Linked DNA regions of Homo sapiens. The protein of the gene in region 4 purifies or fractionates together with the protein of the main gene of each other region. This does not show direct contact. Each region holds a gene or a part of one and is shown on either strand. Other genes may lie near its edges.

Region 1 (4,487 bases), on a different chromosome or scaffold from region 4:
CGTGTGCCACTCTCCATGAGATGTTCAAGGGCCTTTCAGTATGAAGTGTTCATTTATGGCACATGCGGGGCCTCTAGTTGCTTCCTGGGTTCCTGGCAGACTCCAGAGCAGTCCCCCGGCATGGGAACACCACAGTGCATCCCAGAAACAGGTCACGTCTTGCCCTACAGTGGCAGCATAAGCTGATATGGTGCTTAAGAAACCTGGCTATATTCATCAAGAGCCATAAAAATGATCTTTTTTTTTATTCTTGGCCTTATAATTTTATGTCTGGGAATACTATATTCTAAAAATATCACTCAAAAGAAGGGGGGGTGGAAAGTCCTTTACAAAGATAAACTTGTTCCCTACATCATTACTGATGATGGAAAAGGTATAAATAACCTAAATATCCACTGACAGAATTAGAGTTGAATTATGGCAAATCCACATGATAAAATAATATAAGACATGATCAACATAAAGACCACATAAATATATAAAATCATTAATGAGATGAAACATGTTTGTATAACTGTTCAAGAAAAAATACAGAAGCAAACATGGAAATACAAAAATTGCAGTAGAATGTACAAAGTGACAAATTGTCTTTTGAGTTTCTTGAATATTGCCACAACACTTAAAAAAATCTAAATTTATCCCACGTGAATATTAAAAAATGTATGTACTAAGTTACTTAGGTATACAGATAAAGAACTTTTTTTAAAGTTTTCACTTAAAAAGCTAAGAGAATTCTGGTTTGCAGTATAAAGTGTATATACTTAAACTTTTCCACAATAAGGCGCATTGTCATTGTTTCTGGCAATTATCTGGGGCCTGCTATTGCTGGAGACACTAAAATATGGCAAGTTGGTGACTGTGGTTCTGGGGTGGCATGGGGGGATTACACGCGGCCATCCTGCTCCCACACTGAGGAGACAGAAAGTCCCTTGCAGAGCCTGGACGCAGCCTCTCAGCCCTTTCCAACCTGCAGGTGAGGCCGCCACCTCCACTAAGGGAAATGGGCCATGAGATGAGGTCTTTCTGCCGTCCTGATACTGGCTGCTGGTTTCTTGAATAAAGCCATCATAGAAGACTGGCTTTTTTGGTGAAATTTATTTGAGGCTATTAACTCCTCCTTAAAATTGGTTTGCTACCATCCAATATATGTGTCCCCACAAAGAGAATATTTTCACAAAGGAAACAATGTCCAATTGAAAACTATGAAAGTCACACCTGCTCATTCAGCTTTCTTGCCAGGACAAAGATGCAAATTTCCTGAGAGGTCTGTGGTTCTTTTAGCTAAAGTTAGGTAAGTCTCTGGTTCAACGACATAACATCACACACCAACAGTCTCCACCATACAGTTCAGAGAGTTTTTTTTTTTTTTCCACGATAGTTTTTGCTCTGTTGCATAGGCTGGAGTGCAGTGGCATGATCTCGCCTCACTGCAACCTCTGCCTCCTGGGTTCAAGTGATTCTCCTGCCTCAGCCTCCCAAGTAGCTGGGATTACAGGCACCTACCACCTGGCTAATTTTTGTATTTTTAGCAGAGACGACGTTTCACCATGTTGGCCAGGCTGGTCTTGAACTCTTGACCTTGGGTGATCCACCCGCCTCAGCCTCCCAAAGTGCTAGGATTACAGGCATGAGCCACCACACCCAGCCGAGTTGAGAGAGTCTTTGCAGGTGAGGGATGGAAGCACTGAATCAGCAGCCAAGTTTCTGATTAGGTCATCAGAGAAGATGGGGCAGAGCGGAAGAGCCGCACAGACACACTGGAAACTGGCAACAGTAAGCGGCAAAGCTCCAAAAGGACCACCACAGACCACCTTCAAATCAGTGGGCGCTTAGCTGATACAAGAAGGTAGTCTTAGGTATTTGTTGAAATTGAAATTACAAAGACTTCAGATGCTCTTCCTAGCTCATCAGGATCCTACAGTGTAGGAACACGAGTGTTTTTCCAGTCCCTCTCCAACACAGCAGCATGACCCACCAGGTCTACCCGGCATCCAGGGACCTGAGCACTCGGCATTAATCAGAAGGCACCACCCACAAAGGAACACTTAACCAGTGGTTTATGATCATGATGATTTATAAAAAAGTGAAGACTTCCAACATCAACTGGGGAGGGGGAGGATTATAAATCCTTTTTAGTACATAATATTCTAAGAGTCTACAATCTCCTGATATTAGCCTTAGTAAGGGAAGTGCATTAAGACACAGAGTATTAATGGTACAAAATGATGTTATAAGCAAAGCCCATTAGAGACTCGGGGACTGAGCACCGAGAAGAAAAGGAAGGATCCACCCTACGGGTACAGCTGTCGGGCTAGGCCCGAGCCAGAGGGCTGCAGGTGGTGGAGGGCAAAGGTCGGGGGGATGGGAGGAGGCTCCAGTGCTGGCTTGGATAGGAGATTCTAGGCTGGGCCCAGCCCTGACCCCAGGTGGTCCAGAGTCAGTCTCTGATGCTGGGGTACAGTTGTGAACTGTATTACCTGTGACAGTGGCAGGGTGGCAGTGTTAACAAAGAGTAAGTGCTTATCTGTGAGGCCACACAAGTGACTTCCCTGAAGACTGACTACAGCCAAACAAGGCGCAGGGTGGTGGGGAAGACAAACACCAAAATGGTGGTAACTGCTGAAACTCAGGGTTTAGCCTTCTCTTGACTTTTGTGCACATTTAGGTATTTCCACACCAAAAAGTTTCTGTAAAAGTTCATCTTTACCTGTAATACCAATAAGCTCCAAAAAAAGTAGAGTTGCTTTAAAATGGCAGCCTTAATCATTAACCTCAACTGGCCTCTGCCCCGTTACATATTACCCCAAAGATGTAGGCAGGGAGAGAGGGAGGGAGGGAGGGAGGGAGGGAAGGAGGTAGACACTCACCACTGGCTCCTCGTTCAGTGTCTGCAGCATCCAGTTTTCCAGTGTCTGGAAGTCCCGAGGACCCTGGTACTTCACAGCTTCTTGGCCTGGCTTGAAAAGCTTTAAGCTGAAAGAATAACAAAGGATTAGACAGAGCAAAAAGAAAGTTGTCTTATCAGAGAGCAAACTCATTTAGTGAAACAATCAGAAAATGAGCTGTCAAGGGGCTGCAGCCAGGCATGTATCTGCTCCTCTCTGATAAAAAGGAAACAAACATAACGTTCCAGGAGATAATACATTCAGTTAATCCTAAACTTTCAGAAGTTTCTGGTTTTATTCAAGGAAAACTAAAATGAGGTGAAAACTTCCAGCCCGCTGCTGTGACTGAGGCCTCAAAAGCTACAGTACTCAGTGCTCCTCTGCAGCAGCCTCGGGCCTTCCCTGCAAGCTACTGTTATGCTTTCCCGGCTTCAGCAGTTGTTGTCTGTGTTCAAATTAGGACTGGAGCAGACACGGTGTTGTTTTGCAATTAAGGTATTCTTCCAGGCCACCTGGCAGGTATTCAACTCTTACAAGGCCTGAATATCCAGTTACTGTGAGAATTCAAGTTTCCAGCTATAAGAACATCCTTGACATTGACTGATGCTGTCCATTCACCTTCCCATAGAGAAGGAATCTTTTCTTTTTCCTACAAATGTTGGCCTCTGAAGGAATCTGCAGAGAGGATACGGGAGTAGGTCCTTTAACCATAAGCAAAAGACATCACCAGAGGATGAAATTAACACTCAGTTCCTGTATCCCTCCAGCAGTCACGGGAAAACGTGCTCTAATACTCTAGATAAAAATTCATAGAAGGTGTCAAGGATAGGCAAAAATGTGACTACCAATAGAAGAAAAAAGAAATACAGAGTACCATTTGTTAGCAAGCCTGCTCATCTAAACACCCCTGCCACTTCTACAGCGCGTATGTGGATTTTGTGAGTAAATGCCCAATGTACGGTATCAGAATTGTAAGACGGCAACATATGTAAAATCTGACATGAAGGTTTGAATAGTGTCTTAGTTCAACGGCTGTAACAGAAGACCACAGATTGGGTGTCTTAGAAACAACAGAATCTATTTCGCCTAGCTCTAGAGACTGGGAAGTCTGAGATCAAGGTGCCAGCAGAGTCAGTGTCTGGTGAGGGCTTTCTGGTTCACAGATGGTGTCTTCTTGCTGTGCCCTCACATGGCAAAAGGGGAAACAGAACTCTCTGGGGCCTCTTTCATAAGGTATGCAACCCTATTCATGAGAGCTCCACCCTAATAACCTGCTCCCTCTCAAAGGCCCCACCTCCTATTGCCAGCATTGGGGATTAGGATTTCCCCTATGAATGCTGGGGTACACACACATTCAGTCCAAAAAAAAATGGCTAATTCTCCTTAAAATGAAGTCACATGGCTAGATTAGGCTTTGAAATTAGTATCAGCATACTGGCCTTACCCAGAACCTAAGATGGTATGATGGGGCATAGGTAGGGTCCCTAATGTGTCTCCAGTGCAGAATATACACCCAGCTTCCTCAGCAGCTCAGACTCTCATAACCACAAAAAACAGCCAAAACTTAACTAGATTTGGCCAGTACACCGGCTACGTCACGAA
Region 2 (4,487 bases), on a different chromosome or scaffold from region 4:
ACCTCAGCCTCCCAAGTAGCTGGGACTACAGGCACATGCCACCATACCCGGCTATTTTTTGTACTTTTAGTAGAGACAGGGTTTCGCCACATTGGCCAGACTGGTCTCAAACTCCTGACCTCAAGTGATCCACCTGCCTCAGCCTCTCAAAGTGCTGGGATTACAGACGTGAGCCTCCGTGCCCAGCCGACAACACCTTACCTCTTCAATCAGACAATGTAAAATGATGGTATTTAACAGGATGATATAGTGTTGCTTTTAGAAACAACTTTTAAAAATAAAAACAATAAAATGTACCTAACTGCTACAAAAAAAGAAAACTTTCATGGAGAATAAAAAATAATACTATAATCCATCAAGATGAAAAACTGGGGCACTCCACAAAAAAACCTGCACACAGATGTTTATGTAGCAGCCTTATTCATAATTGCCAAATACTGGAAGCAACTAAGATGCCCTTCAGTAAGTGAATGGATAAACTGTGGTACACCCAGACAACGAAATATTATTCAGCGTTAAAAAGAAATGAGCTATTAAGCCATGAAAAGCCATAGAGGAGACGTAAATGCATATTACTAAGTGAAAGAAGCCTATTTGAAAAGGCTACCTAAAATACTACGTGATTCCAACTAGATGACATTTTAGAAAAAGGCAAAACTATGGAGACAATAAAGACCAGTGGCTTTTGGGGGCTCAGTGGGGACAGAAGGATAAATAAGCAGAGCACAGATTTTTAAGGCAGTGAAACTACACTCTATACAATAATGATGGATACATGTCATTATGCATTTATCCAAACACACTGAATGTACAACACAAAGAATGAACTCTAATGTAAAACTATGGACTTTGGGTGATAATACGTCAGTGTAAGTTCATTAACTGTAAAACATGTACCATTATGTGGGGGATGTTAAATATAGGGGAGGGGGCTGGGCACGGTGGCTCACGCCTGTAATCCCAGCACTTTGGGAGGCCAAGGCAGGCAGATCACGAGGTCAGGAGATCGAGACCATCCTGGCTAACACAGTGAAGCCCCGTCTCTGCTAAAAACACAAAAAATTAGCCAGGAGTGGTGGCGGGCACCTGTAGTCCCAGCTACTTGGGAGGCTGAGGCAGGAGAATGGCATGAACCTGGGAGGCAAAGCTTGCAGTGAGCTGAGATCGCACCACTGCACTACAGCCTGGGTGACAGAGTGAGACTCTGTCTCAAAAAAAAAAAAAAAGAAAAGAAAAGAAAGAAAAAAGAAAAAAAAATGAAAATAGGGGAGGGGCCAGGCACAGTGGTTAATTCCTATAATTCCAGCACTTTGGGAGGCCAAGGCAGGAGGATCACTTGAGCCCAAGAATTCAAGACCAGCCTGGGCAATGCAGTGGGACCACTGTCTCTTAAAAAAATATTTAAATTAGCTGGACTTGGTGGGATGTGCCTGTAGCTACTCAGGAGGCTGAAGCAGTAGGATCACTTGAGTATGGGAGGTAGAGGCTGCAGTGAGCCATGATTGTGTCACTGAACTCCAGCCTGGGTGACAGAGGGAGATCCTGTATCAAGAAGAGAAAAGAAAAGAAGAAAAGGGGAAAAAAAAGAAAAGAAAAGGAGGGAGGCTATTCATGTGTCAGGACAAGGGGTATATGGGAAATCTCTCTGCATTCCTCTCAATTTTGCTGTGAACTTAAAATGGCTCTAAAAACTTTTAAATCTTTAACTTAAAAAAAAAATCTGAGGCACTGAGAAGACTACAGTGAAGAAACACTTTTACTGTATGGTCCAGTTTGAAAGAAATGTGGTAAGGATGCAATCTGCCTGAGAATTCACCATTTCTTTGAGCTTCTAACAAAGGTTCAAAAGCAACTAATGGTAATATCAAGTGGCTCTCTGTACACATACCAGTCTCAGAAAGCTAATCATAGTTCTGGAGATTAAATTTCAGGCAAAGGCAAAAGCTAATCTCTGAACAGCAGGTCTAATAAAGTTAATGAGAACTATACAAACTACAGATCTTCTCCCTCTATTGTCTTTGGAGGATAGAGAACAACCATAGGCTCTAATTATCCTTAGATTTAAAATAATCCTGGAGACTGAAAATGGGCAAAAAGCCCATTTTTACTACAGTATTTGGCAACATTACTACTATTACCAATTAATCTGTATCAGTAACCCTGTCTGGCACTAAATCTCACAAAATATCCACATTAACTCATAAGGAACCAAACCATCCACAGCAGTCATGTTTGAAAAATTGTACTAATACGAGCCAAAGTGCCAGGTATCAGAAATGTTAAACAAGTGCAAACACCCTAGCTAGAACATGCCATCTACCCATTCACTCATAACAACCCTACTGAACACATACTGAAATTGCTAGGGCAGTCATTTTCAAGAGGATACTTCTAAAACTTTAAGCCCCTTACAAGCAAAACGGCTTGAAAACCTTCAAAGGACCCAAGTACATGGGACTTCAAATTCCATTAGAACTGCACCAACTTTTCATATGCAACAGAACACATAGGCAGAATGATTGGAATGGAAAATGTGTATAATCTAAGTACAGAGAATTATGCTGAATTGTCTTGACTTTCATTCTTTCAGGACTTAACGATGGTGAGAAGGAAGAAGGTATTTTAAACCAAAACCAACAAATTATAGGGTTGCTGTGTTATCAGCTTCACTCAGACTATGAGTAAACCCTAAACAAAGTAGATCTTAGTTTGTAGAAAACACACTGCTAAAAAAAGACAAATGCAGGTGTCATTCTGGGTTATCACACCCAAGCAGGCCACAAGTAGTATGCACCATAATGGCACGTGGAAGAAAATACTGCCTAAAAATGGTTTAAGCAGTTAATACATCCACAGTTTCTGATCTCAGAGGCAGGATTCTACTCTGTTCAATGTGCTGCATCATTTAGCCAGTCCAGGAAGTGTTATTTCCCAAGTAATGTTTCAACAAAATATCTGGAAAACATGGAACTGTAAATTAGCTTGCTTGCTCTGGGCAAGATGCCTTGCCATGAGAAGCTTGTTGCTCAGGTAAACGTCTGTTGGCCCTTCCAGGCAGGTCACAAGTCCTTCTAGCCCACAGAGAGGCTGCACAGACTAACAGTGTGCCTGCCCAGCTCCCCTGGAAGAAGTGCTCCCTGCACCAAAAAGCTGACCTTGGTGGAATCTGCAGCAAAAGGCAGAGAGAAGAAGGACGACTTTCATGAGATAAACTCGGTTCATTTATTTTTCAACTGTTTTATGGAGATATACTAATAATTCACATATCCTACAATTTATTCATTTAAAGCATAACGTTCAGTAGGTTTTAGTATATTCACATACTTGGGCAACCATCACCACTATCAATTTTAGAACATTTCTGTCCCCCTCAAGAACACTTCATATCCATCAGTAGTTACTCCCCATTTCCCCCCAGGCAACCACTAATCTATCTTTTTGTCTTTATAGATTTGCCCATTCTGGACATCTCATATGAATGAAATAATACGTGATCTTTTGTGACTAGTTTCATATATTTAATGTTTTTAAGGTTCATCCATGTTACAGTGTGTATCAGAACTTCATTTCACTTTATTGCTGAATAATATTCTGTTGTATGCATATACCACACAAGTTCTTTTCTTCACAGGCAGTAGAATCTCTTCTGCTATATAAGCAAAGCTATAAACAGTGAATAGGTGCCTGCATTAGCTCATGAATGTCTATTATGGCTGAAAATATATCATTAATTGTGTAATGCCACAGTTTTCCAAAAGCGTTACCAAATGCCACAGTGATATCTGGATTAATAAAAATACTGAGAATGAAGTTCCTTTACAAGTAAGCTGACTGCTTAAAAGTTTTCTCCTGTACACTGCAGAAAAAAGGGAACTCACAGCTCCTAAGGCCTGAACACCTCAGGACATAACTGGTCTTTGACCCCATCCAGTTAAAGACAAACAGCATAACTGCAAGTATACAAAGCTGGTCTCTGCAACCTTTCTCTCCTCTTCCTGGCCCTCCATCTCTTCCCTCTATCTGTGAAATAAATCCAACTTCTTCCTGTACTCTTACCCTTCCCCTCCCCCCAAACAGAACAAGATCTCTTATACCTGCTGAATAGTTATACCCTCACTCTAAATTAAAATAATACATTCATTCACAGGAAAAGTTACTTAAACCAGACATCTGTATTCTAAGACATTCTTTCAAAACATGAAATCAAACTAGTTTCCCTCATAAGAATTTGTGGCATGAATGAGCTGATAAGAGGAGGGTTTTTTGTTTTGCTTTTTGCAGAGAGACCCATCCAAATCACAGTAAACTCACTCCATGGCAAATCAAATTTAGTTAGTAATCTCAGGTTGATGCATATCTAGAAAGGGGTGGGAAAAATAAATTGTTATTAACTTTGTTAGGCATGATAATGGTATTATGATTATGTCTGAAAATATCTTTATCTATTAGAAATGTATATTGAGGTACTGAGATGAAATGATGTGATG
Region 3 (4,321 bases), on a different chromosome or scaffold from region 4:
CCCTAGGTCTGCAATATTTAATCTTGCTGTATTCATCTGTGACTTAGCATTTTCCCATGGACAATGTAAACAAAAAAGAAAATAATTATTTTAGCATGAAATAAATCCAATACAATATGTAGCAAACTACTTAAATATATAAATAACAACACAGGCCAAATGGATACAGGCCAAATTTAAGAATACTACTGAAATTTAAATTTAAAATCCATTAAATGATTCATCTAAAAGCAGAACTCAAACATATCTACAAAACATGAAGAAACTGTATACATCAGGAAAAACAGTAATAAAATACTAGTTCGTTCTATGGCAGTAGCATCATGTAGTGGTTAGCGGTACAGGCTCTGGCATCAGAAATAGACTGAATATCTGTGAAATGTTAACAGTGATATAATATCAATACTTACTCCAGGCTGCAATTAGGATTAAATAAGATAACGAATGTAATACTTTCATTGCATTGTTTGGCATATTGTAATTAACTGACAAATATTTTCATGATGATGATAGGGAAAAAGTATGAGAAGTGAAGTAAAGTGGTTTGATAAATTACAATGGAAAGAAACACATGAAAGTCTCTCTCTAGGGCTTATGATGATTTTATAGGAGGTACAGTGAGCAGAAAAACTCTCCCTCTGTGAGCTGGGCACGCGGCCCTGATCCTAGCATTGCTGCTGCTTAACCATGTGGTCACGGACGACTGACTTCATTCTCCTGGCTTTAGTTCACAGTTCTGTTCAATGAGGAGGTGGCAAGACCTTCCTGTCCCAACCCTTATTTCCTCTTTGTCTCTAAAGTGGACTCCCATTAAGGAAGAGAGCTGATGGAAACCTCCTTAGGAACTGGGAATTTGAGTTGCAATATTTCATTGATTTTTGTTGTTGTTGTTTCAAATTAAGAGTCCATTCACTTTCAGCTTTCCACAAGAGAAATTAATATGGCCATGCTTGCCTATCCAAACTCCATAAGGAAGCAGCTGCTTTCCCATTTCTCCTAGCCATATGCCTTCAGAATTAAACACAGACAAAACTGGGATTTTAGTTAGTCTTTAATATAACTCCAACTTTTTAATGGTAAACAAAGATGTAAGTACAAAACATCAAAATACGTTATCAGTAGTTCTAAACAGCCATAGTAGTCACAGTGCCAGAAGTGAGGTCACTCACATTTTAAGGAAATATAATTCACTCTATTTCAGTGGAATCCATGTTCTGGCAGTTGGAAGGCAAAGGTGAGGCTTACTTTGTGCAAAATGTATTCACTTTATTCGAAAGCAGCTTTCTTTTCTGTCCCTTGCTTGGCATTTTAAAGAACCTGTTCATTTTCCTTTTTTGTTAAAAGTGCTCTAAGAACTAAAAGGGCCGTTCCTTACTGGAATAAAATTAACTACACATGCCATACATTTCTGGGTCAATGTTGCTGGTTAAATTCCCTCAGAATTAGCAATTCATAGAAAATTAATTGTTAAGTTATCGCACTTTCATGCCAAAAGTACAATTTAGAGTTCACAATACAAGGCTCTGTGGTATAAAGTGCCTATGAGCAGCTTCCCATCATACACTGAGGCTACAGAACTTCCTTGGAGAACAGACCCATTGTTGGCATAAACTGTAGTCACTGTAGGCTTCTCAGATAGAATGTTCTGGATGCGGAGAACCTATTCAGGGGATACAAAGTATGAATATAAGACCACCGTACATGCATGTCACTCAATCATCAATAAGCCCTGTTTTCCACAATGACACACTGATTAAGGGGACATGCTGTTGAAAATAGCAGTTACCAATCTTTTTAATGTTTAAATTAAAGTACTTTCTCCAATCTTCAAAGAAAGTACTTTCTTAAAACCATCTAGTTATTCCATGCCAACACAGGATTTAGTGTTATTATAGCAATTCAGCTTTAATAGAAATACTTTCATACTAATGTGCCTACTTTCACACTACTTCAACATGAACAAATATCACATCATGTGGTGAGCTGACAATAAATCAGATATTTTAAAAATTGCCAGTATACCACCCAAGAAGGGCACATGTCTTTATAAAAATGCCTTTTGACTAGTTTCCACCATAATTTAATACATCAAAAGATTACCTTTCTTAAAGTATTTGAACAATGTAACATTCTGCCAATTATTGGCTTAACGCAATTACAAAACCACGACATAAGCTTATTATATTATTGCTTTAAAATAACTAAACAAATCATCCCTGTGACAATTTATTGTATTATTAGTTCAAAAGGACTTGAATAATTAAGTTTAAAAAACTGAAAATATAAAAACCTCTGACGAGGGAGGATTGTTCGGGTCATACACGAAGAGCTTCTGGCCATTAGGATGACAGCCTACCCAGATGTCCCCCGAGGAAGGATCAATAGATAAATTATCCACCAGTGTATCCAGCTCAAGTACCTTCCAAATGAGAAATTGTCAAAATCTAAATGACATGAGAAACTTGATTAAATAATTTAGAGGTAACCTTCCTGCCTCTATGCATGTGAGGAAATTACACATCGCCCTGCTTCCACCTTCTAACACCAATATTGCTTAAAAGGAATGTATTAAAAACTGGTTTGGAGCCACTTTTCTTCTTCCCTGAAATTAAGAAAGTTAGGGTGATAATCGGTCTCTGTAAAAATCTATCTTAAAAACTGAACTCCTTTTCCTTTAAAAGATGCACAATGATCAGTTAGCTCAAGGAACTCAATCAAAGCAAGATAGGAAATTCTTAATCAACCTAAAATATGTGTTGTTGAGTAGGAAGAAAATAATAATGGTGTGGAACCCAATTTCTACCTTCATGTATTATTGAAAGAACTGACACTGTGCATAAACCTTCATTTGAGAATTCATCTATTAGTATTTTCAATTGTGAAAATTCTTATTGGAATTCTTCCACTGCCATCAATACTTCATGGAATGGGCCCTAAATCTGATGAATATCACTCTCAACCTGCTGCTGCATGTAATCATGGTCAGTTCTTGAGATCGCTGGAAACAGGAGCTTTCTCTAGTTGTAGGGAGTATTTAAAAACCCAGAATAGCTACACTGGCATCCATATTTTGTTCTACGTGTGGTACTCTTATAGAAAAACTATGTCATTGCAAAGCATAATAGATTACTGTCTATATGTAAAAATAAATATTTTACCTTCAACTGAGTTAAATTCATATTAGTGTGTTTTTCCAAAACATGAATTTCATGAGCCAATATGTCAGCAACATAGATATACCTTTGCAGAAAGGACACAGTGGTTAGAGCTCCATGCCAATATAAAGCTTCATTAATACAGTGTGAAAGAATAAGTCTTAATAACCTGCCAAGAAGTTAATCAATCATGGGCCCTCAAGGAATGCTTGATAAAGGTCAATTTTTATTTAAAAAGTAAGCTTTCAGAATCAATTCAGTGGTGCTACAACAATCATGGAATTATTAAATTGTTTTTCAAAAAGCTTGTAAGGAAAAATAATATAGAACATCATTTTGAATATGAAGTCCATATTTGCCACTGAAATGACAATAAAACAAATGCTTGGCTTCAGAAGAAAAGCTTTTACATTCCACAATATAATTTGATACTTCTAATTATCATGTACATATAGAAATATATGGTAAAGAACATCTTATTAAAATAGTGATCATTCCTTAATATTCAATAAAATATTTATTAATACATAGCGAATTTTAAGAGTAAGAGATAAGTATCAATGCAGAATAATCTGTCTACTTCAAAGGTGAGTGAATTAACAGACTATTTTGAGGTAATTTTACTCATTGAATTGACTTTCCATGGCACCTGCTCTGTTGAGCAATTATGTGTGAAAAGCCATGAACTCAGTGTTGCAGCAGATATAAACATGAAGAAGACACAGCCTCTCTCCTTGAAAGTTTATAGTGTGTTGGAACAAATCTCACTGGTTTGTACACATTAAACACCTAATAAGCATGAGAAATAGTTCAGGTCTAGAAATAGCTAACTTCCGAGGACACAGAAAGGCTCACCAAGGAAGGGGCATCTGCAGTGGCTGTGTAAAGAGAGATGAGATTTGAGATGAGGACGGAGGAGGCACTTCCCAGGCAGAAGCAAGCACAAGAGCAGAATCACAGGAGCAAGAAGAGGAAGGAATGTTTAAAACAATGAGTTCTTTGTCTAAAGCATAGAAAGCATGGAAATAGTAGAAAAGGGAGGTTGGAGGTGGCCTGTTAAACAAAGTCCAACCCTTTACCCTGCCTTGATTTGATAAGCAATTGGATTCCACTGAAATCTTAGAATAATAAAGTGGCAACAAATGGTCAGTTCTGTTCCACAATTC
Region 4 (4,487 bases):
TGAGGATGAAAAGAAATTGGAACCTTCGTACATGGCTGATGGGAATGTAAAACGGAGAAGTCACTATGGAAAACAGTTTGGTAGTTCCTCAAAATCACAGAAGTACTATATGATCCAAGGCTGGGCACAGTGGCTCACACCTGTAATCCTAACACTTTAAGGGCCAAGGTGGGAAGATCACTTGAGCTCAGGAGTTCAAGACCAGCTTGGACAACATGGCAAAACCCCATCTCCACAAAAAATACAAAAATTATCCAGGTATGGTGGTATGCACCTATAGTCCCAGCTACTTTGTGGGAGCTAATGCAGGAGGATTGCTTGAGCCCAGGAGGTCAAGGCTGCAGTGAGCCATGTTCACACCACAGTGCTCCAGCCTAGGTGATGACAAAGTGAGACCCTGTCTCAAAAAAAAAGCCTGGGCACAGTGGCTTATGCCTGTAATCCCAGCACTTTGGGAGGCCAAGGCAGCAAATCACTTGAGGCCAGGAGTTCCAGACCAGCCTGGCCAACATGGTAAAACCCCATTTCTACTAAAAATACAAAAATTAGCCAGTCATGTTGGCACATGCCTGTAATCCAAGCTACACAGGAGGCTAAGGCATAAGAATTGCTTGAACCCAGAGGCAGAGGTTGCAGTGAGCCGAGATCATACCACTGCACTCTAGCCTGGGTGATACAGTGAGACTCCATCTCAAAAAACAAAACAAAAGAAGTATTATGTGATCCAGCAATTCCACTCCATGGTATAGATCCAAAAGAATTGAAATCTGGGGCTTAAACAGATACTTGTACACCATTGGTTTGTAACATTATTCCAACAGCCAAAAGGAGGCAAAACCACAAACGTCACCAACAGATGAATAGATAACGTGTTACATAGGTACCATGGAATGTTATTCAGTCATAAGAAGGAGTAAGATCTCATACATGCTATTGTATGTATGAAGGAAAGTTGAAAACATTAAGCTAAGTGAAATGAGGCAGACACAAAAGGACAAATATTGTTATGATTCCACTTATATGAGGTACCTAGAATAGGCAAATTTATAGAGGCTGAAAATAGAATGGAGGATATCAGGGGTTAGTGGTGGAAGTGAGGAATTATTGTTTAGTGGGTACAGATTTTCTGTTTGGGATGATAAAAGTTCTAGAAACTGATAATGGTGATGGTTGTACAACATTTTGAATGTATTTAATGCATTGAATTACACACTTTTGAATGTTTAAAATTGTTTTATGTATATTTTGCAATAATTTTAAAACAAAAAATTCCTCAGAAGGCCAGGCACAGTAGCTCACGCCTGTAATCCCAGCACTTTGGGAGGCTGAGGCAGGCAGATCATGAGGTCAGGAGACCGAGGCCATCTTGGCTAACACGGTGAAACCCCGTCTCTACTAAAAATACAAGAAGTTAGCCAGGCATGGTGGCAGGCACCTGTAGTCCCAGCTATTTGGGAGGCTGATACAGGAGAATGGCATGAACCCGGGAGGCGGAGCTTGCAATGAGCTGAGATCACACCACTGCACTCCAGCCTGGGCAACAGAGCAAGACTCTGCCTCAAATTAAAAAAAAAAAAATTCTTCAGGAATTCACAATAAACTATTAGAAACGAAAAACAAGTTCAGCAATGTTTTAGGATACAAGATCAATATACACAAATCTATTGTATTTCTATACACTAATAATGAAGAATCCAATAATGAAATTAAGCAAACACTTCAGTTTACAATAATATCAAAAGAACAAAATACTTAGGAATAAACTGAACAAAAAGTCTAAGACTTGTACAATGAAAAATACAAAACATCATCAAAAGAAATTAAAGACCTAAATAAGATACATCTGTCTTCATGGATTAGAAGACAAGATGGCATGATTGCCAAAAATGATAAACAGATTCAATGCAATCCCTATCAAAATCCCAGTTGGCTATTCTAAAATTTATATGGAAATCCTAAAATTCACATGGAAATATAAGGTACCCAGAACAGCTAAAACAATCTTGAAAAATAACAAAGTTGGAGGACCCATACTTCTCTATGTCAAAACTTACTAAGCTACACTAATCAACTCAGGGTGTTCAGGCATAGAGACAGACATATAGATGAACAGAACTGAGAGTCTGGAAATCTAATCAACTGATTTTCTTTTTTTTGTTTTGTTTTACATTTAGAGACGGGGTCTCACTCTGTCACCCAGGCTGGAGTTCACCCTGGAGTGTAATCATGGCTCAAGGCAAACTTGAACTCCTGGGCTCAACTCCCACCTCAGCCTCCCAAAGTGCTGGGATTTCAGATGTGAGCCACCACGCCCAGCCTACAATCAGTTGATTTTTCAACAAAGATTCCATGATAATCCAATGAAGCAAAGAATAGTCTTTTTAGCATGTGGTGCTGGAATAAATAGACCAGGCAATGGTTTCTAATATAACACTAAAAGTACAAGTAACAACAACAACAAAACAACTGGACTTCATAAAAATTAAAAACTTCTGTGCTTTTCAAGGGACACTATCAAGAAAGTGACATGAAAGCCCACAGAATGGGAGAAAATACTTGCAAATCACCTATCCAGTATATATCAGGAATTCTTACAACTAAACAATAAAAAGACAACCAAATTTAATTATAGGCAAAGAATCTGAACAGACATTACTCCAAATAAGACATGCAGATGTCCAATAAGCACATGAAAATACCCTCAACAAAATTAGCCATCAGGGAAATGCAAAAAAAAAAAAAAAAATGCAATGAGATAACAACTTGACACTCAGTAGGAAGGCCATCATCAGAAAGGCAGACCATCACAAGGCTTGATGAGATGTGGAAAAATTGGAACCCTCGTAACATTGCTGGTGGGAATGTAAAATGGAGTAACTACTTTGGAAAACAGTTTGGCAGTTCCTCAAATAGTTAAATGTAGACTTACCATATGCCCAGTGGAGCAATTCCACTCCTGGATATATATCAGAGAGAATTGAAAACATGTTTTTATAAAAACTTGTACACAAATGTCCATAGCATCACTATTCGTAATAGTCCAAAAGTGAAAACAAATCTCTGTCAATTCATGATCAGATAAACAAAATGGGCTTTATGGAAGTTACTATTCAGCCATAAAAAGGAACGATGTACTGAGACATACTACAACATGGATAAACCTTGAAAACACTATGTTAAGTGAAAGAAGCTAGACACAAAAGTCCCATATCGTATAGCTCCATTTATATGAAATGCCCTGAATAGGCAAATCCATAGACACGGAAAGTAGGTGAGTGGTTGCCAGAGACTGAGGACAGAGAGGGAGGGGCCATGCGCAGTTATTGCTAGTGGAGATGTGGTTTATTTTGGGGGTGATGAAAATGCTCTGGAATGAGACATTGGTGATGGTTGCATAATTCTGTGAATATACCGAAAATCCACTTAATTATATACTTTAATAACGGTAAATTTTGGCTGGGCTCAGTGGCTCACACCTGTAATCCCAGCACTTTGGGAGGCCAAGATGGGTGGATCACCTGAGGTCAGGAGTTCGAGACCAGCCTGGCCAACATGATGAAACCCCGTGTCCCTACTAAAAATACAAAAAATTAGCTGGGTGTGGTGGTGGGCACCTGTAATCCCAGCTACTCTAAAGGCTGAGGCAGGAGAATTACTTGAACCCAGGAGGCAGAGGTTGAAGTGAGCCGGGATCACACCACTGCACCCCAGCCTGGGTAACGAGCAAAACTCCGTCTCAAAAAAAAAAAAAAAAAAAAAAGTTTTATGGTATGTGAATTATATCTCGACAAAGCTGTTATTTAAAAATTGTATAGTTTTAATACTTACATTTAACAAATTAAAGCTTTTACCATGCCTAAAAATTTGAGCCTCTTTCCCCTCACCAGACGGAGAAAGGCTCTGGCAATGGAAACACACATTCCTGCCTATTAAAGCATCAGAAAAGATTGAAATAAGCTTAATTGTGGTTCACAGATTCTGCCAGTGTTTTTCTGCCTAGGCTGCATTTTCTCCTTTATCCTTTCAGGTTTTCATCAGGCTGTGTAAGATAGCTGGCAGGATCTGTGCGAAAAGTATCAAAATCATACCACTTTTCAGGGCCCAGATCAAACCTACAGGTATTGTGGGGGTACAACAGAAGATATTGACTAGTGTAAGGCAACTCTCTCTCTATATATAAGGCACACCTTTGGTAAGTCGCTGAACTGCATACGAATAACAACAGCACCAGTAACAAACAAACCCTGAGCCTGAGCACCTCCGTGTGAGGTGGGCACCGTGCAAGGATGCTGGGAACCTGCCTCTGCCCTTAACCAGTGAACTGTCTAGTGGGGAAAGCAGACATCGTGGAATTGTGTGGACTTTAAGGAAAGAGAATGAACGGGTGCTATAGTATACAATAGGTAGACCTGACACCTCATTTGGGGGCTCCAGAAGGCTTCCTGTGGTGACACCTACCTGAGACCTAAACGATGAGACCACAGAAA
Region 5 (4,487 bases), on a different chromosome or scaffold from region 4:
CTATTCATAGGCACGATCTCCACAGCACACTACAGCCTGAGCCTCAACTCCTGACCTCAAGCAATCCTCCCATCTCAGCCACCAGAGTAGCTGGACCTCAGACCTGCACCACTTCACCTGGCTTAAAATATATTCCTATTCCTATTGCTCTGCTCAGAGGGAGATGGAAAGGGAGATATTCTGACCAGAAGAATTCAGCAATTATCAAAGGAGGAAATAGGCACAAAGAATGGAAAAAAGAATTATTCCTGGGCTGGTGCTTTGATTTAATTGTTATAAAAGGTCTATGGGGAAGTGGGGAGTTGGACAATTAGAATGCTTCCTAAGTTATCTTCCTCATGCATATAATCATTATTTTCTCCAACTATGGTTTCATGACATTAGGCATACTTACATTGAAATGTAAATACAAAATAAAAACTAAATACAGTTAATTATCACCGTGATTATTTTCTTTTATTAGCATTACCTAGAATTAGTTGTGAATGCACATCCACCTATAGAAGCCCCAGGTAAATTTAAAAAAGAAAACCCACTAAACCATTATAATTTTATAGTAGAGTTCCATGTAACTATTATATAATCTTTCTATATATCAAACTTTTTTTTCCATTGTGACTAAATAATGTAGCAATCCCTATAAGATATGTTGTTCCTATATAGAACACCTTGTTAAAAAAAAATAGGGGAATGTTTCAAGTTTGAATGATGCAGTTCTGGAAAAAACAACAGGAAAAAATCAAAATACGTATAGAAAATTAGGAAACTTACCCTTATTGCCTCATGACAAACTAAAGATACCATTCAATCATGTTTGAATATCTTCTCTCTGATCAATAGTGTTTGTCCAAGGTGTATGAGGAGACAAGAGACTCCACCCTCTAAGAGTTCATACTCTCCTTAGAGGGAGAATGAAACCTAATTGCTAACATCAATATATGTACAAATCAAAGTCACAGAAAAGTGACAGAGACTGGGAAGCCACAGTCTGAGGTGGGACTTGAGTGTCAAAACCTTGGGTGAGAATTTGGAAGTGCAGAAGAAAAAAAAGGCAGGACATCTCAAGCGGGGGGATATCCTGAAATGAATGCCCCAGTGGGTAAACAGGATAGAATCCTATTGAGCAATATGAGAAAATAAATAAGTCTGATCAGAAAGCAGCTAGACAATAGACAGCCTCGAAAGCCATGCTAAAAATTTTGGATCCCCATGTGAAAATAAACGCATAGTCAAATCACACTCAAAGAAGGCAAGTGGGTCAGTAAGGACAAGTGACTGATGGTTGTGGGCAGTAGGAGGTGATGGAAGGCCCAGGTAATGGTGAAAATGAGTCATTTAGTACCACTGGTGAAGAAGTGATGTGGGACTACACCAAGACATCAGGAGGTGAATGGAAAGACTCAGGCAAGGGAAGAAGGTCTTCATGAAGGACATAGTGATCAATTAGGAATAGATTAGATATAAAGGGTAAAAAAGTGAATTCCACAACACCAAAATCTGTCTTCGAAGACTGAGGCAAATGGGGATGTCAGATCTGAGTTAGGAAGTTGAGCTGGGAACTCTAAGCTCTTGAGAGTATAGAAGAAATCACAATTAGAAATACAGCTTTTTGAATCATCTATATATAAATAAAAATCCAGTCTATGGGCATGAATAACTACACCAAAGGAGTGAGAATAGAGAAGAGGAGAGGTGCTGGGACAAAAGATGTTAATAAAAATGCCAGGAAGGAAGAAGAGGCACAACCAAAGATCAGATGGGGAGTTACCATTACAGATGAGAAAGGAGAAGGAACTCTCAAGGAGCAGGGAAGAAGCATGGAGCAAAGGAGGAGATTACTGAGGACTACAGAAAGACTACTTAAAGGTAATTTCAGTGGGATCAAGGTTCAGCATTCCCAGAACATGAGGCAGGTGGTGAGCTATAGTTCCAAAACTTGTTCTAGGCAAGAAGCTTTAGTTTTAACATCAAATTCCCCAGACTGGATTGTCATTTTGACTTCCAAAGGTTACTTGGGACTCTACCAAGTTATGAGCTGTAAAATGCTACTACCTATAGGGCTATGCTTCAGGGGCAGAATGAGAACTAAACAGTAGAAATATATGTGTAATAGATTTGCAAACTACAATAAAGCTGTATGACTCTAACACTTTACTAGGGGAAACCAAGTATTATCTCTAATATAAGATTAGTATCAGAGATGGTTAACTATAACATTTTCCCACCAATATTCCTAGTAAACTTCAGCCCTGCCCTGGCAAGACGCTCCCTATTTTGGACATTGAGGATCACAGGCATGTGGGGGTTTTTTGTTTGTTTTAATTAAATTCATTCTCAGATCAATACCATGGTTTCCTGCTATAACACACCCAGTTTACATAAAGCCCAGATATGACACTGAAACACTATTCTTTCCTTCTTGAGCTTATTTTGCCTCCATTGTTTTTCCCTTCCTTCTCCCCATCTTGTCCTTATCCCCTGCTTCTAAACTACTTCCCCTTCCAGTTTCTCTCTTACTTTATCTCCATTAAGATACATTCTCACAAATGTCTACAAAGTATTTTCAAAACCAACAGTCAGTGATTAGCATGAATATTACTTAAAACAGTTTTACTCTTGGCCTTTATCCATACATTTCACCGTTCTTCCCTCCTTTTGAATAGACAGGCAAACCTGTTTGACTAGTTTTCCCCTAAGAGCTACTCCCCAGATTGGCTTGGTGAGAACAACTCAATAGGGACAGCAGCACAAATGCAAAATCTATGTAAAACACAAAGGCCTTCTTCATAAAGAGAACCCAGAGGAAGGGCCTGCTGTGGAGCCCCTAGACTAACTGCCTAGTCTTAGGCCTAAGACTAACTGCCTAGTCTTAGAACAGCTCTCTCAAAGCAGGAAGACACCACCACTGAATCACTCATTCCGTTGCTAGTAAAAAATTTTTATTTAAGTAAAATTGAATTCTTCCTGTTGATGCCTCTCCTCTGAATAATGAATATTATGAGGATGAGGGAGAATCAGATTAAGACTTAAGTGTAGAAGTTTAAAAAATTCCAACAGATGAGACTATATTCAAGATGTGTTACAGAAGTGTGTCCAAGTTTTTTGTTGTTGTTGTTGTTGTGTGTGTATCTGCTTAATTAAACCCATTAAAAATTCTGAATTTGCAAAACAGGTATTAATAAAATCAGAATAGGATTTTTTCTATGGTAAATTGTATGTTGATATTGCTTTAAATTTCAAAGTCCCTGAGTATATTTAATATATAATGTGCTTTAATGTCACTAACCACAATTTTTTTCTGTAAACTATTTCTAACATACAGAAAAATATAAAGATTAACATAACAAACATCTGTATGCCCATCACTTAATATTTAAGAAGTGTTAAATGTTTGCCCTATTTTCTTATTCTATAAATATGACTCAACTTATAAAAGCTGAGTTTATATACAGCTTTTCAAGAACCTATTACAGAACATATAGCATATTTGCACACTTGATTCTACTTTGTAAATTCATGTGCACATTATTTAAACTTGATGTTTCACTTGGAAGAAAATTAGCCCCACAGTTTTTACTCATTAAAGCAAGTTATAGCTTAATGTAATAACTAAAAAGTCATGATTTGGTGTCTTGAAATATTTTGAGTATTAAATTTCTTCAAAACAATTAAAAAGTACAAAATGATTTCACAAATATTTTGTTATATAATATTCCCAAATCAAGCACATATTTACCAAATCAGATACGAATGTAAATTTCTTTAATGAACTGGATTCCTTGCAGATGCATTTCTGTTATTTATATCAAGTCAATGGAAATAAATTATATCTTCAAAATAAAATCAATATAGTGATTATTCCAAATTAACAATTCAGATAAATAGTACAATGCTACAAGGAAACAGTATCTCTGAAATGTTCCTACTATACATCTTTCCATCTAATCTAAATGTTTTAATATTTACATAAATGTCCATCCAGAGAATACGAACTGACCTACACTGTCCTAGATGCCCTGCCATTCATAAACCAAAGGTACCATTTTTATTTTGGCTATGCACTCCTAAACACTTACCTAAGTGTGGCATTCTGTATAAGTCAATTTCAACTTGGCATCTGTTATCTCTGTAAGGGAGTGCTGAGCATGACAATATATAGTCTAAAACTGACTTGGTGAATATACAACATGGAACTAGAAGAAATCCTAAACTGAAAATCACCTGCTTAGATTACTATGCTTTACAAATAACAGGGCCATAAATCGTGAAGGACTAAGCACAGTGGGAAAAAAAAAAGCACTGAAACACAACTGCAAAATAGAGAAGTGCTGAAAACGAAAAGTATGGCTAGCGATTTTCAGGTAAAGAATATGATTAAATATTAAAACTACAGATATAAAATTCATTTCATCTTAAAAATATGGAATATCTAATTTTGTTTTATTCAACAAACATGTATTGGGACAACAAATATTTATTATATGCCT
Region 6 (4,487 bases), on a different chromosome or scaffold from region 4:
TTGCTGTGTCTCCCAGGCTAGAGTGCAGTGGTGCAATCTTGGCTCACTGCAACCTCTGCCTCCCGGGTACAAGCAATTCTCCTGCCTCAGCCTTCCAAGTAGCTGGGATTACAGGTGCCCGCTACCACACCAGGCTAATTTTTGTATTTTTAGTAGAGACGGGGTTTCACCATGTTGCCCAGGCTGGTCTAGAACTCCTGGCCTCAGGTGTTCCGCCCGCCTCAACCTCCCAAAGTGCTGGGATTACAGGCGTGAGCCACCACACCCAGCCCAAACTATGTACTTTTTAAAAGATCTTTATTTTTATCTAGCATTTCTAGACGTTTTATGGTGGGAAATCTTGGGTGGTTGTCTAGACTGACATGCTGTCTGAAACAAAGGTCCTTCCATCCCCAATTTAATTTAGAAAGAAACAATCTCAAACCAGTAATCGCTAGACTATCTCAAACAGGCACTGGCTTCGACCTTCCGACTCCAAGTCCCACACTGACTTCAGTAAAACTGAGCAGGGTGAGGGCTGCAAATGGGTCTGAAGCGGAGGTGTATGTAATTGAGTGGATATCTATCTGCTGCAAGTGATACAGCCAGCCCTAAGCAATGTTCTCAGACGTAGGATGTTAGGGAGCATCTACACTACTCTTTCCCATCACCCTCCCTAGGTTCTGCTGCAGCTGTAAGTATATATGTATGTATGTAAATGTGCACGTACATACACATAAACAGATATGTATTTTACCATGGCCAGCAACCATGGTAATGCTTAACCCTGACCCTCTAAATGCTTAAAATCAAAGCAAGATCCATACCCAAAAAAACTGTTAAGTAAATCAAAATCATAAAGAGGTGCACACAGAGGATCTCAGTAAGTGAGGGACTACGCCACAAAGACAATGTGCCTGCTAGAAAAGCAGAGCCCATAGGATGTGGGCACCACACCACTCCCGCACACATTCACTTCTTTTTGTTTTCAAAACAGGGTCTTGCTATGTTTCCTCAGACTGGCCTCAAACTCCTCCTGAGCTAAAGCAATCCTCCTGCCTTGGCCTCCTGAGAAGCTGCAATTACAGATGCACGCCACTGCACCTGGCGCCACATTAACTTCTGATATCTCCTTGTGTGTACTGATATTTGAATTATAATCTTGGACAGATTTACTTTTATCCCTAATTCAAATTCTTGCATTATCTGATTATAACCCTAAAGAACTGATCATCACTGGCAAAGCACACATATGTATGTGAACAAGAAGCTTACGTTTTAACTGAAATTGTTTTTCAGATTTACTGACTGCTCATTCATGTCACCCTTAGGTGATATAGGACTTGGTTTTTTTTTTTTTATAAGAAGTTAATTTTACAGTTTTAAAGCAGGATCTCAAAATATACTCACCGCTTGTTTTGCCTCAAGGATAGTCCTTGTCTTCCTAATGAGGGAGGTGTCAAATGACTTGACAGTGACTAACTCTACCACTGCATTCCCACCATAAAGACTGTACATGTCATCTGCAAACTGAAAGTTAGTTATTAACATTATTGGGAATCTCAACTATGTACTTTTTTCATTTTTAATTAACAAATTAAAATCATATATATTTATCACATCAACATATTGTTTTGAAATATGTACACATTGTGGAATGGCTTAAGTCCACATTGGCTAATTAACATATGCATTACCTCCTACTTATCATTTTATGCAGTGAGTCAAATACATACTTATTAAAATTATTTTTAAAGCTTTTGTGCAGCTACAAGAACAATGTACACTTACCTCCTGGCTCATGAAATATACTACATCTTACAATAAGCAAGTCTTAAAGGTTTTGATTTTGCTCAACTATACAGAAAAGTGTTAAGCTTTAACATATATTCAAATGTTTAGACTAAAATTACTTTAAGAAGAGACTGAATTTGTCAGCATATAAATTGGAGGAAGGGAAGTTGGAAAGAGAAATGAAATCTTCCTAAGTGGTCTCTGGTTAATCACAAACATCTATAAAGATTAAAATATGAAGCCTCACTGAAAGGATGCAGGTGAAGAACTTCAAGGGCAGAGGGGAACTAGCATTTATTATGCATCTACTGTCTGGTACTGTGCTGGGTGTTCTACTTCAGTTATCTCATAGTGTTTAAGGAGTACAGAGTTTCAGTTGGGGAAGAAGAAAAAGTTCTAGAAATAGAAGATGGTGATGGTTGTACAACATGTGAACGTACTTGCACTTAATACCACTGAACTGTACAATTAAAAATGGTTAAAGTGGTAATTTTATGTTATATATATTTTACCACAATAATTTTGTAAAGCTTTGTGTGAGATAACTTTTCCTAATGCTGTTCTTTCTAGCATTAGGAAGAAATATATCAATATACATTTTTGACCCTACTCCATCCTTGGCCAGTATAATTAGAGGAGCCCCAAAGAAGGCAAATAAGAGTTCAATCAACAGTGTTTGAAACAGCAGATTTTTCTATTAAGAGGCTAAAAGTGAAATGGTCATACTCCAACCTCTCATGTCGCATTGATATTTACCTTTTGCAGAGCGTCAACAAGGATCTTAGAAGCATCTCTGAATTGTTCAGAGTCTTCCCCATAACGCTTCCCAATTTCATCCAAACCTGCCAGCTCCAGTGAATATAAATCAGGAGAATGATCCTTGGCTAGATGCTTATGACGAGACAGCTTAGGAGAACAAACAAACAAAAAAAGGTAGCGGATAAAGTAAGATGAAAGACGTCAAACACAGCCAGTTAAAGTTTTATGCCTAACTAAACTAGGCTAAACTAAACCATACCAGTGTACCACAACATGCAAATAGTCTAAAATGGTGGCAAAAGAAACTGGTTTGAATAAGCGTTTCTGATAAATCCAACACGAATCTCATGTTTAGGAGCAGTACAAGACTCCTTGGATATTTAATAAAAGCTTTCAACAAAATTCCTCAGTTTTAAAAACTCAGGTATGGGCCAACGTATGAAAGAACAGATGGCTGGACCAGTTTGATCCCAGGAATGCACTACACTTCCAGACTCCCCGAACCAACACCTGTTGAAAAAGTTTGGAAAACAACTTCAGAAGGTAGCAAACAGATAAGAATTTCTATTTCAGTAACAAGGATGATTTTTAAAAAATCATTCACCAAAAAAATACCCTTCAGACGGATTTCGTCCCTTCTTGACTTGACTGACAGCATTATTAGTCCAAACTATTATTTCTATTTTAGGCCCAAAGATATAGATAGGAATTAAGTCTCACAAGAAATCAACAGCCAAGTTAGGACTATGGCCAGGGTGTTCTTACGCCCAGGCTTGTGTTCTTGGAAGATATGTTGTCTCTCCCTAAAAAGCAGAAATGCAAAATAATTTGACTATAACATGGATGTGTTCAAAATTCCCAATATTGCCACTAATTTTTCAATTTTCATGGGATCATAAATCTAGGGCATACTTAATCAAACTTTTCAACTGCCTTTACTATTATTCAAGGATTCTCTAGAAACCAAAATAAATGGAATTAAAAAATTAGAGCAGCCTACTTACCAAGCTTGAAATATCATGTAGCACTTGCAGTTCAGAAAGAAAGAGCAGGTCAACCTTCAGAGAGCCCAAAAAAAAAGAGCATTCTTTTAAATGTGCACCAGAGATCTTTATTTGCCATTTACCAAGCAAGGCACAGGATATTACAAATGTTGATCATATAAGTGAATTTATATAATTATCTTCCATTTGGTATGTTTGCTTCAATTGAAAATGCATATAAAACATTATTTCCTAACAAAAAGGTGATGGCCATTCCCTAGCACAGTGACTGCCACTCAATAGCTATATTTTTGGCAAAACCATGATAAAGCATCCAAGTTCTCCAGTGGTTTTCCTTCAAAGCATCAGGATATCCTGGCACTCTGCAATGACATCCTACCATTGGCCCAGTTTGCTCACTTCCCTTGAATAGTTTCCACATCAGAGAATAAAGGATGATGGCCCTGGTCATCCACAGCAAATAAAAAGGGGAGGCCACCACGAAAGTGGCATGCCACATGGTTAAGAGGGCGCATGAGCAGATGGAGAAACTGAAGGACAGGAGTCAAAAGTAGAGGTGGCTCCCTCCACTGCAATGTCCAGAATGAATGAGAAAAATGTGGCAACAAATCAGCAGAGGCAGTGAACAATGGCTTCCAAGTTACCAGATCCACACAGCTCCACCAGTCACCAAGTAGATCTATGACCTCTGGCTTGTTTGAATTAATAGGTGGCAACCCTCGTGCTAAAATGTGATGTTATTTACCACAGCTCAACTCACAAAAAGGATCAGTTTATTCATGAGAGTCATAAGAAAATTACACTAAAGAAGAATCTACCCCAGCAGTAAATGTGCACAATCTTTCATTTTCTAAAATAGCAAAATTTCCAAAATTTCAAGTAGTATAAGGAATGGGAGGCCAGATGCAGTGGCTCAAGCCTGTGATCCCAGCACTTTGGGAGGCCAAGACA
Region 7 (4,487 bases), on a different chromosome or scaffold from region 4:
GTGCTGTACGGTGACACATCTTGTGAGAGTTGGCATCAGGACTCAAGCCCAGGAGACACAGTTCTCTTACCCCAAATCTAACACTCTTTCCACTACTCCTCACTGTCTATGTGACACCCAATTGTAACTTTTTTTTTTTTTCTGAGATGGAGTTTCACTCTGTTGCCCAGGCTGGATTGCAACGGTGCAATCTCAGCTCACTGCAACCTCCGCCTCCTGGGTTTAAGCGATTCTCCTTCTTCAGCCTCCCGAGTAGCTCGGATTACAAGTGTGTGCCACCATGCCTGGCTAATTTTTGTATTTTTAGTAGAGACAGGGTTTCGGCATGCTGGCCAGGCTGGTCTCGAACTCCCAACCTCAGGTGATCTGTCCACCTTGGCCTCCCAAAGTGCTAGGATTACAGGCGTGAGCCAACACGCCTGGCCATAACGTTCTTAATGTGTTCCACATGGTATACGACAGCAGAATGCCACAAAGAAGGGGCGTGGTCACTGGATTCTCAACCTGGAAATCTAACTGCATTTACAGCACACATTCTGTGTGGGCAACTCACTCTCTCTGAGCCTGTTTCCTGGTTTTTGTCATGGGCTAATCATTTCCGTCTTGCTGAATTGTAAGGTAACTGGAAAAGAAGCAGGAAAGTCCTTCCCCCACACCTGGGTGCACGGCAGGAGCGACCTGCACCTACTGTCATGAACATCCTTCCTCAACAAAAGCACTGAGGCTTCCCGCTTCTCCCTGGAACAACTTGAAGCTGCTGATGCAGAAGAGATGCCACGCTTCATGGGGTCCTCATGGATCCCCGTTAATACTGAATCCTGCTTCCTAGATCATCCGACCACCTGTGTTAGCCTATAACCAATTCTCTGCAATTGATGTAGAATTTTGTGCCTTCATCTGTGTTCGTAGAACAGTATCAACAGGAGCCATTATTTCCTGAATACAGGGTGATGTCTTTAATCTGGTTTTTAATCTGCTTTTTTATTTGCCTTTCCCACACCATGCATGCAGAGGCCACTGTGGACTCCCAGCAGAAGCCAGAACTAGCAGCTGAGATGACACAGCTGAGACATCAGGCCATCTCTATTGATAAGGCCCATCTGACCAAGCCACACTATGAAAGTCAGAGGCATCATGTGAGAGAAATAAGGAAATTGGAGCTTCCCAGAAAAAAACCCTTCGCTTTCTCTCAGTAGCCCAGGTGTTAGACACCGGCTCTTGCTACAACAAGATAAAATACAACGGGTTTCTCTTTTTGGTGAACATGACAGAAAGAGAATAACCAGCAGAAATCAAGTTGACCAGTAGTCTCTCTTTCTTATTTATTTGTTTTGAGACAGGGTCTCGCCCAGTCACCCAGACTGGAGTGCAGTGGCGTGATCACAGCTCACTGCAGTTTCAACCTCCCTGGCTCAAGTGATCCTCTCACCTCAGCTTCTCAAGTAGCTGGGACTACAGGTGCGTGCCACCATGTCTGGCTAATTTTTTTTTTTTTTTCATTTTTTTGTAGAGACAGAGTCTTCGCTATGTTCAAGACCCGGGCTGGTTTCAAACTCCTTGGCTCAAGCAACCCGCCCACCTCGGGCTCCCAAAGTGCTGGGATTACAGGCAGGAGCTGTGTGCCCGGCCTCTGTTAGCTCATCCATACTGGGTTATCGGGTTTAGCATCCCCTCCCAGTCCCTGTCCCCTGCCTTCTGGAGACTCAGCTGAAATAAAAACTGCCCACATCAAGAGTCCCATCTATGGGGCTGGAGAAGCTGCAGGGATGTCCTCCTCCCAGCGCCTACCAGACCCCCACCCTGCCCCCCCAGCCCTCAAGCACCCACATGAGCTGCTTCTCTGTTAAGCATTCACAGACAATGATCTACCCATGCTATATATTCACCATCAACGTGTATGGAGCACCAGCCGTGCCCTGGCACAGGCTCTGGTGATGCAAAGACACAGCTCTTATCCTGAAAGAGCTCATAGTTAGGAAGGGGCCTGATGAATAACTAGACACTCAGGGTACAGCAGAGCAGCGCCATACCACGCAGCAGGGTGGGGACGGGGGTGGGCTTGGAGTGGAATGTGGAGGAGGTTGTCCATCCCAGGCTTGTTGAGGTTGGGGTGGTCAGGCAGGCTTTCTGGAATGCATAACACAGAAGCTGTTCCGGGAACACACGAAGGAGTTAGGCAGACAGTGAAGGGGTCTGCTCCAGACAGAGCACATCCCCACGGCTTGGCTCTGGGCCACAGCAAGCACAGAGCCCCCTACCCATCAGCACAGCTCCCGACAGCAGGCAAAGGTGACAGTCGCCCCCGGGCTCTTCTGCCAGGGTGTCCTGGGAGGACGTGTGCTTTGGAATCTCTGAGTGTTCTAAGGATCTAGGGGCCTTTGTAGGAGTCCAGCATGGATTCTCTAATGCCTAGCTGTATGTTAATGGAATAGTTGTGACTACATAAAAAAAACAAAAGGCTCTCAATACACAGGTCTCCTGGTATCTGGGTTCAGCCTAACCTGGAAGTGATCACTTCAGAGGCTCCAGGTGGAATCAGATCTTCTGATCAATCCTCAAAAAAACTTCCCTAAGCCACCAGTGCGTGTGTCAGGAGCATCGCGTGGTCACCCATGCACATCGGCTGGGCCTGTTAGCCAAGTCGCTGCTGGGTCTTGGCCATTGGTGTGTGCAATTCACAGCCGGGCAGCTGCTGCAGACACCCAGTCATATACTTGTATAGGAAGAACAGCTGGCTAGCATTTCCTGGCAGCCATGATCAGCACCACAACTCAGGCAAAGTTGAGTTCAAAAATGTTTCTAAAACACTTGCTGTGTGCCCAGCACCTGTTTCATCTTCACTCTGTCACAGGTGTTATTTTTGAGTGGATCAAGAATTGGGTTTATCTGTCCCTCTATCCCATTCTACAGAAGTTTCCCAAGTGGCATACATAGAAAATATTTTTTGAATATATAATATGCAAAATATCACTAAGAGGGACTGGGCACAGTGGCTCTTGCCTGTAATCCCAGCATTTTGTGAGGCCATGGCAAGAGGGTTGCTTGAGGCCAGGAGTTTGAGACTAGCCTGGGCAACAAAGCAAAACTCTGCTTCTACAAAAAAATTTTATAATTAGCTGGATATGGCAGCATGCCCCTGTAGTCCTAGCTACTTGGGAGGCTGAGATGGAGGATCACTTGAGCCCAGGAGTTTGAAGGTTCAGTGACCTACGATCACACTGCTGCACTCCAGCCTGGGTGATGGAGTCAGACCTTGTCTCTAAATTATATATATATATATATATATATACACACACACACACACACACACACACACACACACACATACAAACACATATTGCTAAGAGAATGTGCTGTCTTTTTATGTAAGTAGAAAACTGAGCCACTATCGGAAGACCATGTGGCTTGACTTAGGGTTGGAGCAGGGTGGATGAGCTTTAAATTTATTTCTAGCTCTAATTTTCTTTGAGTCTAAATCATCCTCACTCTTTTACCTGGTTTGATGTGAGACCCACCATATGGTTTTGTGAGCTGCTTGACTAGGACGAGGTTTATAGCCTGACACTATAGACAGACATTTTCTCCCGTATATACAAAAGAAATGGCCCCAAGAAGGAATGAGCAGAATGCACTGGTCCCTTATTGTCCGTCCCAACAATCTCATCAAAGCAGAAGCGAAAATCACTCAGAGAAAGTAAAAAATTTATTCTGAGACTGCAGGTGCATAATGCCAAATAATCAAAGAAAAACCTGTCTGGGCATGGTGGCTCACGCCTGTAATCCCAATACTTTGCGAGGCCAAGGCGGGCAGATCACTTGAGGTCAGGTGTTCAAGACCAGCCTGGCCAACATGGTGAAAACTTAGCTGGGTGTGGTGGCGGGCGCCTGTAATCCAAGCTATTTGGGAGGCTGAGGCAGGAAAATCGCTTGAACCTGGGAGGTGGAGGTTGCAGTGAGCCAAGATTGTGCCACTGCACCCCAGCCTGGTGAAAAAGCGAGACTCCATCTTAAAAAAAAAAAAAAAGAAAAGAAAAATTGGCCGGGCATGGTGGCTCATGCCTGTAATCCCAGCACTTTGGAGGAGGAGGGCAGATCACGAGGTCAGGAGTTCGAGACCAGCCTGATCAACATGGTGAAACCCTGTCTCTACTAAAAATATAAAAATTAGCCGGGCGTGGTGGCTTCAAGTGACACTACCAAGGTATGAAAGGAAAATAAATCTCAAGACCCCCAAATCACTAAGCCAAAGGGAAAAGCCAAGCTGGGAACTGCATGAGGCAAACCTGCCTCCCATTTTATTCCTACATAAGACGGCTACAAAGATAAAAGGCTACATACCTCTCTCACAATTTACCCACAAGGAAACTCCTTGTGGACTTCAAGATCTTTACCCTAAAACAGTTCTGCTGAACTTCACCTTGGCAATGCAAATGGGTACAGGACAAAGGACAGAACTCAAAGTCATCCCTCTGCTCACCTGAGACAAA

Evidence for each region.
Region 1: the proteins of SLC3A1 (region 4) and TXNDC5 purify together in Homo sapiens (affinity purification with mass spectrometry; one large-scale study listed by BioGRID and IntAct). This does not show direct contact.
Region 2: the proteins of SLC3A1 (region 4) and DIPK1A purify together in Homo sapiens (affinity purification with mass spectrometry; one large-scale study listed by BioGRID and IntAct). This does not show direct contact.
Region 3: the proteins of SLC3A1 (region 4) and PON2 purify together in Homo sapiens (affinity purification with mass spectrometry; one large-scale study listed by BioGRID and IntAct). This does not show direct contact.
Region 5: the proteins of SLC3A1 (region 4) and UGT8 purify together in Homo sapiens (affinity purification with mass spectrometry; one large-scale study listed by BioGRID and IntAct). This does not show direct contact.
Region 6: the proteins of SLC3A1 (region 4) and ATP6AP2 purify together in Homo sapiens (affinity purification with mass spectrometry; one large-scale study listed by BioGRID and IntAct). This does not show direct contact.
Region 7: the proteins of SLC3A1 (region 4) and PLAT purify together in Homo sapiens (affinity purification with mass spectrometry; one large-scale study listed by BioGRID and IntAct). This does not show direct contact.

The regions. Positions count from the first base shown.
Region 1 is NC_000006.12:7,896,709-7,901,195, forward strand, and holds part of TXNDC5 (thioredoxin domain-containing protein 5 isoform 1 precursor), read right to left. Parts: intron 2,974-4,487; coding exon 2,868-2,973; intron 1-2,867. UniProt on the Homo sapiens protein: Protein disulfide isomerase of the endoplasmic reticulum lumen involved in the formation of disulfide bonds in proteins. Can reduce insulin disulfide bonds.
Region 2 is NC_000001.11:92,954,487-92,958,973, forward strand, and holds part of DIPK1A (divergent protein kinase domain 1A), read right to left. Parts: intron 1-4,487.
Region 3 is NC_000007.14:95,403,829-95,408,149, forward strand, and holds the end of PON2 (serum paraoxonase/arylesterase 2), read right to left. Parts: intron 3,241-4,321; coding exon 3,159-3,240; intron 2,420-3,158; coding exon 2,291-2,419; intron 1,661-2,290; coding exon 1,502-1,660; 3' UTR 1,034-1,501; downstream 1-1,033. UniProt on the Homo sapiens protein: Capable of hydrolyzing lactones and a number of aromatic carboxylic acid esters. Has antioxidant activity. Is not associated with high density lipoprotein.
Region 4 is NC_000002.12:44,305,824-44,310,310, reverse strand, and holds part of SLC3A1 (amino acid transporter heavy chain SLC3A1), read right to left. Parts: intron 1-4,487. UniProt on the Homo sapiens protein: Acts as a chaperone that facilitates biogenesis and trafficking of functional transporter heteromers to the plasma membrane.
Region 5 is NC_000004.12:114,604,722-114,609,208, reverse strand, and holds part of UGT8 (2-hydroxyacylsphingosine 1-beta-galactosyltransferase precursor), read right to left. Parts: intron 1-4,487. UniProt on the Homo sapiens protein: Catalyzes the transfer of galactose to ceramide, a key enzymatic step in the biosynthesis of galactocerebrosides, which are abundant sphingolipids of the myelin membrane of the central nervous system and peripheral nervous system.
Region 6 is NC_000023.11:40,597,784-40,602,270, reverse strand, and holds part of ATP6AP2 (renin receptor precursor), read right to left. Parts: intron 3,591-4,487; coding exon 3,537-3,590; intron 2,680-3,536; coding exon 2,530-2,679; intron 1,510-2,529; coding exon 1,390-1,509; intron 1-1,389. UniProt on the Homo sapiens protein: Multifunctional protein which functions as a renin, prorenin cellular receptor and is involved in the assembly of the lysosomal proton-transporting V-type ATPase (V-ATPase) and the acidification of the endo-lysosomal system.
Region 7 is NC_000008.11:42,200,705-42,205,191, forward strand, and holds part of PLAT (tissue-type plasminogen activator isoform 1 preproprotein), read right to left. Parts: intron 1-4,487. UniProt on the Homo sapiens protein: Converts the abundant, but inactive, zymogen plasminogen to plasmin by hydrolyzing a single Arg-Val bond in plasminogen.